2 linked regions of the Homo sapiens genome follow. The protein of the gene in region 1 purifies or fractionates together with the protein of each later gene. This does not show direct contact. Each region holds a gene or a part of one and is shown on either strand. Other genes may lie near its edges.

Evidence for each region. Proteins that work in one complex are often made in the same cells at the same time.
Region 2: the proteins of HNRNPA3 (region 1) and PLOD1 purify together in Homo sapiens (affinity purification with mass spectrometry; 2 studies listed by BioGRID and IntAct, with this or other methods). This does not show direct contact.

Annotation. Positions count from the first base shown.
Region 1 is NC_000002.12:177,215,035-177,222,793, reverse strand, and holds part of HNRNPA3 (heterogeneous nuclear ribonucleoprotein A3), read right to left. Parts: intron 7,256-7,759; coding exon 7,133-7,255; intron 7,045-7,132; coding exon 6,898-7,044; intron 6,817-6,897; coding exon 6,606-6,816; intron 6,292-6,605; coding exon 6,202-6,291; intron 6,119-6,201; coding exon 6,023-6,118; intron 5,935-6,022; coding exon 5,854-5,934; intron 5,090-5,853; coding exon 4,949-5,089; intron 3,758-4,948; coding exon 3,635-3,757; intron 3,548-3,634; coding exon 3,495-3,547; 3' UTR 3,480-3,494; intron 3,387-3,479; 3' UTR 1-3,386. UniProt on the Homo sapiens protein: Plays a role in cytoplasmic trafficking of RNA. Binds to the cis-acting response element, A2RE. May be involved in pre-mRNA splicing.
Region 2 is NC_000001.11:11,958,100-11,965,858, forward strand, and holds part of PLOD1 (procollagen-lysine,2-oxoglutarate 5-dioxygenase 1 isoform 2 precursor), read left to right. Parts: intron 1-416; coding exon 417-548; intron 549-2,546; coding exon 2,547-2,668; intron 2,669-5,432; coding exon 5,433-5,537; intron 5,538-6,075; coding exon 6,076-6,201; intron 6,202-6,544; coding exon 6,545-6,686; intron 6,687-7,380; coding exon 7,381-7,494; intron 7,495-7,759. UniProt on the Homo sapiens protein: Part of a complex composed of PLOD1, P3H3 and P3H4 that catalyzes hydroxylation of lysine residues in collagen alpha chains and is required for normal assembly and cross-linkling of collagen fibrils.

The sequences.
Region 1 (7,759 bases):
TAACTTTTCTTCTTTGAGATGGGGTCACCCAGGCTGGAATACAGTGGGGCAGTCAGCTCACTGCAGCCTCGACTGCCTGATATCAAGGCAGCCTCCCAAATAGCTGGGACTACAGATGTGTATCACCAAGCCCAACTAATTTTTCTATTTTTTGTTGACAGGCTCTCACTATGTTGCCCAGGCTCGTCTCAAATTCCTGGACTTGGGATCCATCTGCCTCAGCCTCCCAAAGTGCTGGGATTACAGGCGTGAGCCACTGTGCCTGGCCCTGGTAACTTTTAATGTTCCTTTGAAGGTGTTTTCCTAGTATGAGGATGGGCAGCTTACTGAGTCTGTTGTGTGTCATGCTTACACACCAAAACGGTTTTCACAAAAGCTGAAACCACTTTACCAAAAATTGAGTTTACCCTGAAGACACAAAAAATGAATTGTATACACAAGGAGTCACAACTGACTTGATATGAATACTTATGGCTATTTCGCAGGGGAATTTTTAAAACTAAGGTTTAAAACGTGTAGGACATGGTACCAAGGTAGTTTTCAGTTGAAGAATTTTTCCAATGTGCCTACTAGAGAGGGACAAAGTTGTGAAATATGTAATGTAGACTTGCAGGGAAACAAATGGTGTCATCAGGTTTTACTGTCAACTACAAACCTTACCCAGCCAGAAACCTTCGTATTTTAGATGGTAGGAAAGACATTCCTCATTTAGGCAAGTAGGGTTCTCATTCAACCTGCAAATCAAAAAGATTACTCTTACCTTGCTTTACAAAAAATTACTCTTTAATTAGTGAAAAAATTCAAATTCAAGCCTTACCTAATGCTTATTGCCCTTCCTTGCAGGTCTAAATGCTAGACCTAGTGACTGTGGCAACTATCTCTCATTGATGTTCCAAAAGGCGAAGAGCTCCTTCCTGCTAGACTTTCTTCGATATTTCAGTTGTAATAAGCAGATTTAACTAGCTTTTGGAAAGTTGCTCACTATCATCATAGTATCTTATGCCTTCACTTCTCTGTAGTTGAAGCTCTTGCTGCTGCCTTGTCATTCTTTATTTATGCTGACTTGTCCAAACACAAAAGGCTGCTGAAGTCCTGTCTTAGTGAGTTTCTGTGATCCACACTGTGCTTAAAAAGCACATCTTAGGTCCTTTAAAGGTGGTTAAATCGCTCTCCTCATGGCTTACTTTTCCACACTGTTCACAAGAGCTAAGCTAATACAACTTATAAACAGGTCACATACACAGATTTCACCTGCTTATAGGTTGTAAACATCAACTTACTGTAAATGTTTTCACTATAATACTAGTTCCAGAACATAGAAAGTTGGTTAACAGTACAATTAACCTCATGCCATTAAAGGATACTGTCAAGGTTGTGTCAAACAATTTCACAAACATAAAACAGGAAATGTTAATCTCCCCCATTCCTTTAAACTTTATTTATATGAATAAAAGAACTTGAGACAATTTAGCTCAATTTTAATGTTTCCCAAGCATTATTTTGACCAGGTACCCAGGTTTAAGTTATGAACATTGACAGTGTCCATTATATAACCACACTTGAAGTTATTTAGGACTTAACCATTTTCTAATATTAGCCTATTTTCTACACTGCTTTTCACATATATGCCCATTAACAAATGGAATGTCTGTTACATTTATTGGTTTGTGAATGTTTCTGGAAAACTGCAGTATGTGTGAAGACCAATTTCCATGCTGGCATTGCATGCATCCAAATATTAATGCACAGAGGCACAGAATTAGAGCAACAAGAGAGCATATTCAAACACTAGCACACCCCATTCCCCTTTTTATTGCTTGTTTGCTTAGTACTTCTTAAAACAAAAGACTTGAATTCAACGTTCAACTACCAAAGAGAGTAACAGCAGGGCACATACTCAGGGCTCGAATGAAACTGTAAGCACTAGCTGGAGCAAAACAGTAGACATTGGTTTATATTAATATATGTATATATGACCTTATTAACTAAAACTCTTCTCAACCAGGGCCTTCCAAACAAATTGGTAACAACATGATTTATGTTGAAATATACACAAGAAATAACAGTGTGTTCTTTGGGAATTTAAGAACTCAGACTATCCAAATTTGAATTCAGGTCTGTAGGAAGTGAGAAGCCTGTACTAAGCAACTGTGCTACATTTCTGCTGCAGTTAGGTTATTTTGGACAATTATACCTGAACTATCCTTGGTTTCATCCAGCAAAATGTATAGAATACAAACAGGAAAGCATGCCAGCCAGTTAGGGGTTTAATAACACATGATTTTTATTCTCTTGCTCTGAAAACTTGTATCAAAAAAAAGAATTTAAAGTAACTCAAGATTTATGGGCCTCTTGTGCTTTAAATAAGAAAAAAAAGGTACCCACTAATTTGCTCAGATATAGCAGGCTTAATGGTTCTATATTTTCAAAAGTTTTTAAGAATGGTTTCTAACGTAGGAGAGGGAAAACATCCACCATCCCTTTTCAGAATTTAAATGGAGGGCAGTAAACATTCTTTACACCCAAAACCTATGGCAGCAGTTCAAATTTGACCAAGGTAAATGTAGAATAGAGATGTTCTAAACACAGCTAGGACTCAGCAAGTCTAACACACTAAAATCATATGATTACATTTTAAAAGAAAATGCACAAAAACCAAATAGAAATTTTGAGATTTTTTTTCATTTGAAGGTAATCTTAATGCTATTAAATTCACAAATGCTAATTTAAATACCCAATCCTATTTATCTAAAACACACATTGCAAACACACAAATTATCTATTCTCTCCACATGTCAGCGCCCATTCATATCATGGTTTGGAAATGGGGAGAATAGATTCCCCTTAAACTGCAAGTCAGCAGGTGTTTCTTTACAGTTAACTTTAGCAAAATTCATACAAAATAGTAATTAACAATGATCTTCTTTACTTGTTAACTCACAAGGAAACACCTTCGAAACTGCATTTTGTTAAAGTTTCTGTACTAAAATGTAGAAAAACTGAACTACACAAATATTGAAAAGTTAAAAATTCCTTAATTTTTTATTCCTGGTACCACTACCACAATTTACAGGGCAATATACCTGATGTAATGAAAAGAAAAAGAAAAAGACAAAGCTACAACAGATAAAAGACCTCAGGAATGTACATCTAATTGACACTACATTGCATTAATCAATAGCTGCACTTTTTGCAAACTGTGGCTATGACAGTCCTGAACAAGAAGGGTTTCCTGTTTAAGCTGCAGTAACTTTTCTGACTATGGATCATCGTTCCTTCTGTGGCAGATTTTTACAGTTCCTCTAATGCATTTGGGACGACTGTCTCAAAGTAACCTGCAGCTTTCCTGACAACTCCTCGCTCTCTCTCCTGCTAAGAACTGTAGCCTGTTGAATAATACAGGATAAAAAAATTATTACACTCAGTGAACAGTTCCACATATTCTTTTATCATCATAATAAAAATTTAAAGATACCTACCCTTTTCTGCTGTTTTTAGAACCTTCTGCTACCATATCCACCACTTCCACCACCAGATCCATAACCACCTGAAAATATACATAGTATTTTAAAAGAAGTATGCACATTTTTTAAATTAAAAAGGCTCTAAAGAATTGATTTAAGAAAGTACTTACCACCATAGGGACTGCCCGAGCTTCTTCCACCAAAACTGCCCCCTTTCATGGGTCCATAATTTGATTGCTGTTGTCCACTATAATTTCCAAAATCATTATAGTTCCCACCACCACCATAGTTACCTGAAATCAGAAAGGTTTTATGTGTGGTTTACCTACACAATCATCATTTTCCCCTTTTAACGTATGTAACTATTATCTTTTGAGAATTATGGTAGCATGCTTATACACATCACTGTGGTAGCACCACTTGGGGTAACTGATGTCAGGATATTAAAAGACCATCAACATTTTGTTTATATTAAATGCTGTCCTCTAGGCGCATGTTCTCTCTACCATTAACACCATTAAAATTGCCAGTGTTCCATTCACTATGATTCTGAAGCAGTATAACATTTAAAACAATGAGAAGGCATTCTAACTTGTTAAAACTTCCACTCATCTGTCATTGACATGTTAATTAGGTCCAATAAAACAGTGCATTCCTAAGAAAGCTTTTAACAGTATTGTGGCTTAATGACCTACATACACTAGCTTGCTTAAACGCTTCAACTACCTGTGACATATTATATTAAGACCCAAAGTACTTTGTTAACCTGGGCCCTAGATGGCAACCTGCTCACTTCAACACGTCTGGAGTATTCAAACAATTTATTCCCGGTTGTCCAGTTTAAAAGTACCAAGGAGTTAAGTAAAATTTTGGCAATAAATAAACTCCCAATCTTTTACACGTAAAACATGTACTGAATACTGGTAAATGTCCATTTTTTACTACTCAACTAAAAATTCAGTACATTTGGCTGAGTGCAGTGGCTCATGCCTGTAATCCCAGTACTTTGGGAGGCAGAAGCGGGCAGATCACAAGGTCAGGAGATCGAGACCATCCTGGCTAACATGGTGAAACCCCATCTCTACTAAAAATGCAAAAAAATTAACCGGGCGTGCTGGCATACGCCTGTAGTCCCAGCTACTAGGGAGGCTGAGGCAGGAGAATCGCATGAACCCGGGAGGCGGAGATTGCAATGAGCTGAGATCACGCCACTGCACTCCAGCCTGGGCAACAGAGCAAGACTCCATCTCAAAAAAAAAAAAAAAAAAAAAAAAAAAGAAAAAAGAGAGCTGAGTACATTTGTACATTTTACTAAATAACCAGCAAAGTCAAGAAAATTTGGTTTGAACTACCAACCATTTTAGTATTTTTCTTATAGAACATAAAATTTGATCAAACGCTTTTAACACTTTCCAAATATGTGTCATGGGAACTGTTAGCAACACTGAATATTTAACATTTAAATAAAACAAGTGAATGCTTACCACCGCCAAAATTTCCTCCTTCATTGTAACCATCATATCCTCCACCTCCACCATATCCACCACCTTGGTTTCCATATCCTGGTCCACCACCACCATAGCCCCCTCTACTACTATAACCAGGACCACCGCCATAGTTGCCACCTAAAAAAACAACAAATAACAAGACCACACAAAAACTTAAGTGTATAGTCACGTTATTCAATTCTGGTGTGTGTGTAAGAGACTGGGTCTTGCTCTGTTGCCCGGGCTCAAGTACAGTGGTGCAACCACAGCAATGCAGCCTTGAACTCCTGGGCTCAAGCCATTCTCCCACCTCAGTCTCCTGAGTAGCTAGACTATGGGCATGTGCCACCATGTTCCCCTATTTTATTTTTCTAGATATACGGTCTCCTTATGTTGCTCAGACTAGTCTCAAAATCCTCACCTCAAGCAACCCCTCTGCCTCAGCCTCCTGAATAGCTAGAATTACTCAACTCTGGTTTTATATTACATTTAAGCCACTGGCAAATAAGCCAATGAATTGATTTAGCACTCTGAAGCCTGGTAATACCTAATAATAATAGAGTATCAAGTATCTGCACTAGTAAGAATGAAAAATAAATGTGTAACCCATCTTCTGATAGTAAAAAAGAAAATCAGTTTTCATTTTACAAAATTTCACTAAGAAAAATATAGTCTCAGACTTAATAGAACAATTCTAGCTCAACCCCTACTACTTGCTGAAAAAGAGCAGCTAATGTCTCTCCAGGGGAAAAAGGGTTCCTGTTCTTCCATGTACAGTTTGGAAATACACCTTAACCATTTAGCCACTGAAGTTTTAACTAAAATTAGAAAAGTGTAATAAATAATTTTCAATAAGTAAAGAAAGTTAAAATATCAAACATCAATGAAAATAAGCCACCTACCATCACCTCCAAATCCATTATATCCACCATCACCTCCTCCATAACTACCTCTGCTGCCACCACCTCCACCACCATAGCCTCCTGAGGAAAAACAAGAAATGAATTAAAATAATATATTCAACTTACCAAAATGTCAGGTATCCATGTACTTAGAAGATAAACAGCCTACCTCTTCCACCAAAGTTTCCACCACGGCCAAAATTACCTCCACCACCTCCAAAGTTCCCTCCGCGACCCATAAAATTGCCAGATCCACCTCCACGACCTTTAATACAGGCAAGGGAGATTTTTAAGAACCTTACAAACACCACTCATATCCACTGTATACATGTGTATGGTCCTACTCACCTCTCTGTGATCCAGCAGACTGCATCTCTTGTTTAGAAAGGGCCTTTTTCACTTCACAATTATGCCCATTAATAGTGTGGTATTTCTGAACTAAATTTTTTTTCAATCAAACAAAACAAAAAGTTATTTTATGTTTGGAAAAGCACATATATGAGATACCCTCTGTCATTATGTAACCCATTAAGACATAATCAGGTAGTGACTCTGGTAATGAAGGAGCATTCTGAGATGTTTATGTTTATTTCTTGATCTGGATACTGATTACACAGGCAGACACTATGAAAATTGACTATACACTATAAATGCCATTACACGCAACAGAAAATTACAATTTAGCAAATTTAGTTCAAAACAGAAAAACCAGTTCTACTTTCTCATTCAAGTTACCATAAATTGCTACTTACCAACAATTTTATCAACTGTATCATGATCATCAAAAGTTACAAAAGCAAATCCTCTCTTTTTTCCACTCTGCCTGTCTTCCATAACTTCTATGGTTTCAATCTTGCCATACTTTTCAAAGTAGTCTCTCAAATTATATTCTTCTGTATCTTCTTTAATACCACCAACAAAAATTTTCTTCACTGTTAGATGGGCACCAGGCTTTACAGAATCCTACAAATAAAGTAATATATTAAGTCAAGAAACAAACTTTCACAACAATTTCACATATTACACAATGTATTATTAAAATACCTCTCTAGAAACAGCTCTCTTTGGTTCCACTACACGCCCATCAACCTTGTGTGGTCGAGCACACATTGCTGCATCCACCTCTTCAACACAAGAATAAGTCACAAAACCAAAGCCCCTGGAACGTTTTGTTTGGGGGTCTCTCATTACCTACAAAATAAAAAGTTTTATAACGTTGAAAACACCTCCACCGGTTCTCTACACCCCTTAGAACCCTTCTGTTCTCTTAGTAACTTACCACACAATCTGTGAGTGTGCCCCATTTCTCAAAATGTTCTCGTAAACTATCATCTGTAGTTTCAAAGCTCAGACCACCAATAAACAGTTTTCTCAACTGCTCTGGTTCCTTTGGATCATGGCCCTGAGAGAAAGAACCAATACTCTTAAGTTACCTTACAGTAGATGAATTAAGATGCACGAAGAGCCTTTAATGTACGGTAAGTAATAAAATCAACATCAAATTCCTGTGACAGTTAACACTTTGTCCAGTTAAAACTTTGACCAGACACCGGCGCGATGTCTCATGCCTGTAATCCCAACACTTTGGGAGGCCGAGGCAGATGGATTACCTGAGGTCAGGAGTTCGAGACCAGCCTGGCCAACACGGCGAAACCCCATCTCTACTAAAAACACAAAAATTAGCTGGGCGTGGTGGCGGGCGTCTGTAATCCCAGCTACTCGAGAAAGGAAAATCGCTTAAACCCAGGAGGCGGAGGTTGCGGTGAGCCAAGATCATGTCATTACACTCCAGCCTGGGCCATAGGAGCGAAAACTCCGTCTCAAAAAAACAAAACAACAAAAACTTTGACCAGAAATAAGACTTCAACTGTTAAAGGGGCTAACTTATGTCAAGGAAACCTATAAC
Region 2 (7,759 bases), on another chromosome or scaffold:
CCTCCTCCTGGAAGCCCTCTCAGATTGCATGTCTCTAGCTTCCCCCGAGATGTCCAGGTTCTGGTTTCTTCTGCCTGGTCCTTCAGGCTCTCCTGCAGCCCCCTCCCCATCCCATGAACCTCATCCTCATTTATGACTCACCTCGAACACCACGCCAGCCACGATCTCCTGACAGCAGGCCCTCAACCGAGTCCTTGTTCCAGGCCTGGGCTCCTGCTGCTCTCTCCCCGGGGCACCCTCCTGCTGCTTCCCTGCCCCCCCGTACCCCCTGACTGGAGTTCCCCGGCCCGGGCACCTTTCTTGGGAAGTCTACATGCTTCTGATTCTGGCTCTGACTCCCTTGGGCCACCCTGGGGTGGAGTGGCAGTGCTGTGACTGGACACTGCTGGACTCTTGTGCCGCCCTCCCTGGTGCAGGATGAAGCTCTGCCCACGGTCCTGGTCGGCGTGTTCATCGAACAGCCCACGCCGTTTGTGTCCCTGTTCTTCCAGCGGCTCCTGCGGCTCCACTACCCCCAGAAACACATGCGACTTTTCATCCACAACCACGTGAGTAACAGGCGCTCTGTGGGGTCGTCATGTGGCTTAGATCCAGGGCCCAGCTTCACAAGGTAGCCCGAGACCTCTGAGGGTCTCACCGAATCTAGCTTATCTGGGCCAAATGACAATCACCAGTGGACTGTGTCCCCAAATCACTGAGTTAACTTTGGAGTCAGACTGGGTGAGTTTGAATCCCAGCGCCGCTATTTTATTGGCTGTGTGACCTTGGGCACATTACTCAACCTCTCTGTGCTTTAGTTTCTCATCTATAAAATAGGCATAAAAGTCGGGCGCGGTGGCTCATGCCTGTAATCCCAGCACTTTGGGAGGCCCAGGTGGGCAGATTATCTGAGGTCGGGAGTTCGAGACTAGCCTGACCAACATGGTGAAACCCTGCCTCTACTAAAAATACAAAATTAAGCTGGGTGTGGTGGCAGATGCCTGTAATCCCAGCTACTCAGGAGGCTGAGGCAGGAGAATCGCTTGAACCTGGGAGGCAGAGGTTGCAGTGAGCCGAGATTGCGCCATTGCACTCCAGCCTGGACAACAAGAGCAAAACTCCGTCTCAAAAAAAATAAAAATAAATAAATAAATAAATAAAATAAAATAGGGATAATAATTGTGCAATCACACAGAATTGCTGCAAGGGCTAAGCAAGCTGACATGCGAAGTTCGTAAAAGGTGCCTGGTGCACAGGACGCATCTAGTTGCTTCTAACTGTTGTCATCTTCACTTCCATCCCTGTCACTGTTAATCCTTCCTACCTTCCTAATTGTACCTGGTGGCAGTCAAATTGGTTTTCTTTTCTTTTTTTTTTTTTTTGAGACAGAGTCTCGCTGTGTCACCCAGGCTGGAGTGCAGTGGCACGATCTCGGCTCACTGCAACCTCTGCCTCTTGGGTTCAAGCGATTCTCCTGCCTCAGCCTCCCAAGTAACTGAGACTACAGGCATGCGCCATCACAACTGGCTAATTTTTTGTATTTTTTTTTTTTTTTTTGAGACGGAGTCTTGCTCTGTTGCCCAGGCTGGAGTGCAATGGCGTGATCTCAGCTCAGTGCAACCTCTGCCTCCCAGGTTCAAGCCATTCTCCTGCCTCAGCCTCCCGAGTAGCTGGGATTACAGGCGCCTGCCACCGTGCCTGGCTAATTTTTTGTATTTTAGTAGAGATAGGGTTTCACTATGTTGGCCAGGATGGTCTCGATCTCCTGACCTCGTGATCTGCCTGCCTCCGCCTGCCAAAGTGCTGCGATTACAGCCATGAGCCACCGCACCCAGCTGGATGGTTGTTTTTCCTTTTTTTTTTTTTTTTGAGATGGAGTCTTGCTGTGTCTCCCAGGCTAGAGTGCAATGGTGCGATCTTGGCTCACTGCAACCTCCGCCTCCCAAGTTCAAGCAGTTCTCTGCCTCTGCAACCTCCGCCTCCCGGGTTCAAGCAGTTCTCTGCCTCAGCCTCCTCCCGAGTACCTGGAATTACAAGTGCCTGCCACCATGCCCGGCTAATTTTTGTATTTTTAGTAGAGACGTGGTTTCACCATCTTGGCCAGGCTAGTCTTGAACTCCTGACCTGGTGATCTACCCGCCTCGGCCTCCCAAAGTGCTGCGAATACAGGCGTGAGCCACTGTGCCTGGCCTGGACTGTTGTTTTTCAAAGCGAAGTTGAGGATCACCTGGCACATTTTGTAACAAAGTGGATCTCTGGGCCACACCCAGGAATCAACAATGTCTCTGGATGTGGGATCCTGAGCGTGGTGGCGGAGCTCTATCCTGATGACAGAGGCTCTTAGGAGGCCTGACCTGGTCAGAGGAGAATGGGCAAAGGATGGCCAGGGAAGGGTGTTCCTGGCACAGGGCTGGCATGGGCAAAGGTCTGGAGACAGGAAAGCAGATGGCCGGGGTGCCAGAGATGAAGGGGCACAGCCTGGCAGTGACAGGAGGTGCTACAGTCCCTGGGTGGAAGCTGTGTCCTCCTCCTCACCCCCGCATCCCCTTCCCCATCCCCAACCCCAGGAGCAGCACCACAAGGCTCAGGTGGAAGAGTTCCTGGCACAGCATGGCAGCGAGTACCAGTCTGTGAAGCTGGTGGGCCCTGAGGTGCGGATGGCGAATGCAGATGCCAGGAACATGGGCGCGTGAGTTGTGGGCCACAGTACTCTCCACTGACAGTGGGGGCAGGGGAGCTGTGGCTGTGGTAAGGAGCAGCAGGCTGAGTGACAGGAGTTCAGAAGGCTGTGTGTGCTCTAGCAAGTTCCTGCCCCTTTCTGGGCCTTGGAGTTTCCATCTGTCAAAAGGGGAAATAGCCTCTGTCCTGCCAACCCCCGGGGCTCCTGGGCAGGGCTGAGCCATGTTATTTGGGTTCAGGAAGCAAATCAGAGAAAGAGGAAGGACTGGGGGCAAAAGTAGACAAAGGCTGACTATTAGGGAGCCAACCTTGAATGTTTTACTTTATTATATATAAAAAAAAAAGGCCGAGAGCAGTGGCTCATGCCTGTAATCCCTGCACTTTGAGAGGCCAAAGTTGAAGGATTGCTTGAGGCCAGGAGTTCAAGAGCAGCCTGGGCAACATAGCGAGACCCTATCTCTTCAAAAATTAAAAAAAAATAGCCAAGTGTGGTGGCTTGAACCTGGGGTCCCAGCTACTGAAGAAGCTGAGGCAGGAGGACCTCTTGAGCCCGGGAAGTCGAGGTTGCATGAGCTATGATTGCACCACTGTGTTCCAGCCTGGGAAACAGAGCGAGACCTTGTCTCATAAAGCAAAACAAAAACAAAGAAAGAAGTAATTTGTGTTGCTTGTAGAAGAGTCAGACAGTCCAGATCAAAGGTTGGCAAACTTCCTGCTAAGGATTAGATCATAAATCTTTGCAAATTGGCTCTGCCGGCTCTGTGACAACCCTCAGCTCTGCCCTAGTAGCACAGAGGCTGCATTCCAGCAAAATTTCATTTATGGACACTGAAATTTGACTTTCATGTCATTTATTTTTTTTTCTTTTTGAGACTTGGTGTCACTCTTGTCATCCAGGCTGGAGTGCAGTGGCAGGATCATAGCTTACTGTAGCCTCAAACCCCTGGGTTCAAGTGATCCTCCTGCCTCAGCCCCCCAAGAAGCTGGGACTACAGGCATGTGCCATCACATCCAGTTAATTTTTAAATATTTATTTATTTATTTATTTAGAGACTGAGTCTCACTCCGTCACTCAGGCTGGAGCGCAGTGGCGCGATCTCGGCTCACTGCAACCTCCCCGTCCCAGGTTCAAGCCATTCTCTTGCCTCAGCCTCTCAAGTAGATGGGATTACAGGTGCTTGCCACCACACCTGGCTAATTTTTGTATTTTTAGTAGAGACGAGGTTTCACCATGTTTTCCAGGCCTGTCTCAAGCTCCCGAACTCAAGTGATCCGCCCGCCTTGGCCTCCCTAAGTGCTGGGATTACAGGTGTGAGCCACTGCGCCTGGTTAATTTATTTATTTTTATTTTTTGTAGAGACAGGATCTTGCTATGTTGCCCAGGCTGGTCTCAAACTCCTGGCTTGAAGTTATCCTCCCGTCTCAGCCTCCCAGAGTGCTGGGATTACAGGCATGAGCCACTGCACCTGGTGATGACCTTCACATAATTTTTACATCTTCTTTTGATTTTTGTTTTCTTTTTTTTTTTTTTTTTTTTGAGATGGAGTCTCGCTCTGTCACCCAGGCTGGAGTGCAATGGTGCAATATTGGCTCACTGCAAGCTCTGCCTCCCACGTTCACGCCATTCTCCTGTCTTAGCCTCCCGAGTAGCTGTGACTACAGGTGCCCACCACCATGCCCGGCTAATTTTTTGTATTTTTAGTAGAGACGGGGTTTCACCGTGTTAGCCAGGATGGTCTCGATCTCCTGACCTCGTGATCCATCCACCTCAGCCTCCCAAAGTGCTGGGATTACAGGCGTGAGCCACCACGCCCTGCCGATTTGTTTTTTTCTTGAAACAACTTAAAAACATAAAATCAGCCAAGTGCAGTGGCTGTAATCCCAGCACTTTGGGAGGCCAAGGATTGCTTGAGCTGGGGAAGTTGAGGCTGCAGTGAGCTATGATTGTGCATTCCAGCTTGGCTGACACAGTGAGACCCCCATCTCTAAAAAAGGAAAAAAGGCCGGGTGCAGTGGCTCGCATCTGTAATCCCAGCACTTTGGGAGGCCGAGGCGGGCAGATCACCTGAAGTCAGGAGTTCGAGACCAGCCTGGCCAACATGGTAAAACCCTGTCTCTACTAAAAATACAAAAATTAGCCTGGCATGGTGGTGCACGCCTCTAATCCCAGCTACTTGGGAGGCAGAGGCAGGAGAATCGCTTGAACCCGGGAGGTGGAGGTTGCAGTGAGCTGAGATTGTGCCATTGCATTCCAGCCTGGGCAACAGAGTGAGACTCGTTCTCAAAAAAATAAAATAAAATAAAAATAAAAAAAAGAAAAACATAAAGCTGTTCTTAGCCCATGAGCTGTACAAAACCAGGCAGGGCCAGAGTTTGACTCACAGACCCTCGTTTGCTGAGTCCTGTACCAGATAAACAAAAGTAACACAGATTTTTAAGGCTTTTGGTACAAGTTACCAAATTGCATTTCAGAAAGGCAGCCCCAGCTTACTCCCCACCCTGGGCCATGTAGGCACCTGTGGGCTGTGTTCTTCCCAGTACCAGGATTTTCAGGGCACTTGATACCAGTTGCCAACCTCTGGGCCTTGGGTGAGAGAGCCCAGCAGTCCAGGGGTTTGGGACTCAGAGTCGGGAGGAACCTTTGAGGCTGCTGGTGTGACCTCTCTAAAGCCCCTTGGCTGATATGTGGTGAAGCCAGACTGTGGTCACAGATGTGAGCAGCCACCAGTAGCTCCAGGATCAGGTGCACTGACCCTGTGTCCTCCTCCTTGCAGAGACCTGTGCCGGCAGGACCGCAGCTGCACCTACTACTTCAGCGTGGATGCTGACGTGGCCCTGACCGAGCCCAACAGCCTGCGGCTGCTGATCCAACAGAACAAGTGAGGCTGCTCCGTCTGCACCCAGCACTGCTCAGGACTGGCCTGGTCCTGGGGTGGCAGCCCTCCTTGCCTTCCTCCTCCTCCTCCTCATCCACCTCCTCTTCCTCCTCTTTTTCCTTCTCCTGCTCCTCTTTCTCCTCCTCGTCTTCCTCCTTGTCTTCCTCCTCCTCTTCCTCTTCCTCCTCTTCCTCCTTTTTCCTCCTCCTCCTCGTCTTCCTCATCCTCTTTCTCCTCCTCCTCTTCCTCCTCCTCCTTGGCCTCACCTATTACCCAGAGCTGTGGATCCCCAGCCTGATACCCCAGGTTCTGATAGAGAAGGTGTCCTGCCCTGTCTGCTCCTGGCTGCCCCATGGGAGGGAGCAGGTACCAGAAGAGCCAAACCCCCGACACCCCGGCCAAGGCACTGCCTGTCTCAGTGAGGTGCTTGGGGATCCCTGCGTGCAGGTTGAGGGGCACCTACCTCCCCCCATCCCTGGTTAGTGCTGTCTCCTACTCCCAGTGGGCAGCGACCTCCTACTGAGGTGCTCCCTTCCCTCAGGAACGTCATTGCCCCGCTGATGACCCGGCATGGGAGGCTGTGGTCGAACTTCTGGGGGGCTCTCAGTGCAGATGGCTACTATGCCCGTTCCGAGGACTACGTGGACATTGTGCAGGGGCGGCGTGTGTGAGTACCTGCAGGGTGGGGGTGGGTGGGGGACACCTTCATCTGGCTTCTGCCTGGGCTTGTGGGGCTCCCTCCCTATTATTCCTGTTCTTGTTACCCTCAAATTCCTGTTGAACCTGAAGCAAGGAAGACTTCAGTTAGACACACAGAAGGACTTCCTGACAAATAGGCCCATGTGTCCAGGGCGGGGGAATCAAATCAGCACAATTGTGCCCCCCTAGCCTGTGACTTCCCTTCTCACACCCAGACTCCAGGCTATGACTCCCCACCACCACCCTGTGACCCCCTCCATCTTCCCCACCACCAGCCTCTGACCCCCACCCGCTTTCTGTCTCTCCCACAGTGGTGTCTGGAATGTGCCCTATATTTCAAACATCTACTTGATCAAGGGCAGTGCCCTGCGGGGTGAGCTGCAGTCCTCAGATCTCTTCCACCACAGCAAGCTGGACCCCGACATGGCCTTCTGTGCCAACATCCGGCAGCAGGTCAGCCAGGAGCGGGCAGCACAGGACGCCCTCTGGATGGGGCAGGCGGGAAGGTGGGCCTCCAGCTCTGACCCTCATGGTGGGCCGCCTTGTCACCGTAGGCCTGGGAGCTCCAGAGATTCTAGCAGGGCATCTCGGAAGCCACCAGGGCCTGCTGGAGGAATGGGGGCCGTCGGGCACGAGGGCTGGTCCTCAGGGGTCTGCAGGGACCATTTTAGCTGACCTGGTTTTTATACCATCTATTTTATTTACATTTTTGGAATAGCCCAAAGAAAACGGAACTTTCCACCTAAAGGTACTCCAAGTGATGTGCCCGAGAGACACCTCACCCTGTCTCTGCGCCCCACCCCATATATTTTTGTGACTTTTTTTTTTTTTTTAAACATGCAGCAAGATGAAGTTTTCCCCTGTGACCAACATTTCAGGACCAGAACACGCTCCTTTTCTTTTACGCATTTTTTCTTTCATTCTGTGTTCAGTCCTCTGGGAAGACTTCCCTGATCACATTCTTAGTGTCAGGCCTGGGCTGGGCCCTGGGGACATAGCGGTGACTGCACTTGGTCTCTGATATTGGGAACTTCAGTTCGGCGGGTGGAGGAGGCTGCACTGTTGCCCGTCTGGGAGCGTGCAGGGGAGGGGTGAGGGCAGGGGAGGGGTGGGGGAGCGCCTCTTCCACCGGGCCTGTCCTCCCCAGGATGTGTTCATGTTCCTGACCAACCGGCACACCCTTGGCCATCTGCTCTCCCTAGACAGCTACCGCACCACCCACCTGCACAACGACCTCTGGGAGGTGTTCAGCAACCCCGAGGTGAGGCCAGGGTGGGCACATAGGGGCTGGGAGCAAAGGGGCCCAGTGATCCTGCAGTCGGAGGGACTTCCCTCTCAGAGTCTTACAACAGCCAGGACCCCTGTAGGCCACCTGCCACCCTCCCTTCACCCCAGGAGGCTATAGGGCAGGATTTGGGTAGGGAGAGAAGGGTGTCCAGAGAGGCAACACCATCTATTGGAGGAGGGACCAGGACTCAAGAGGCCTGGGTTTGTGGCCTAGATCTGCCATCATCTGGGACTTAGTT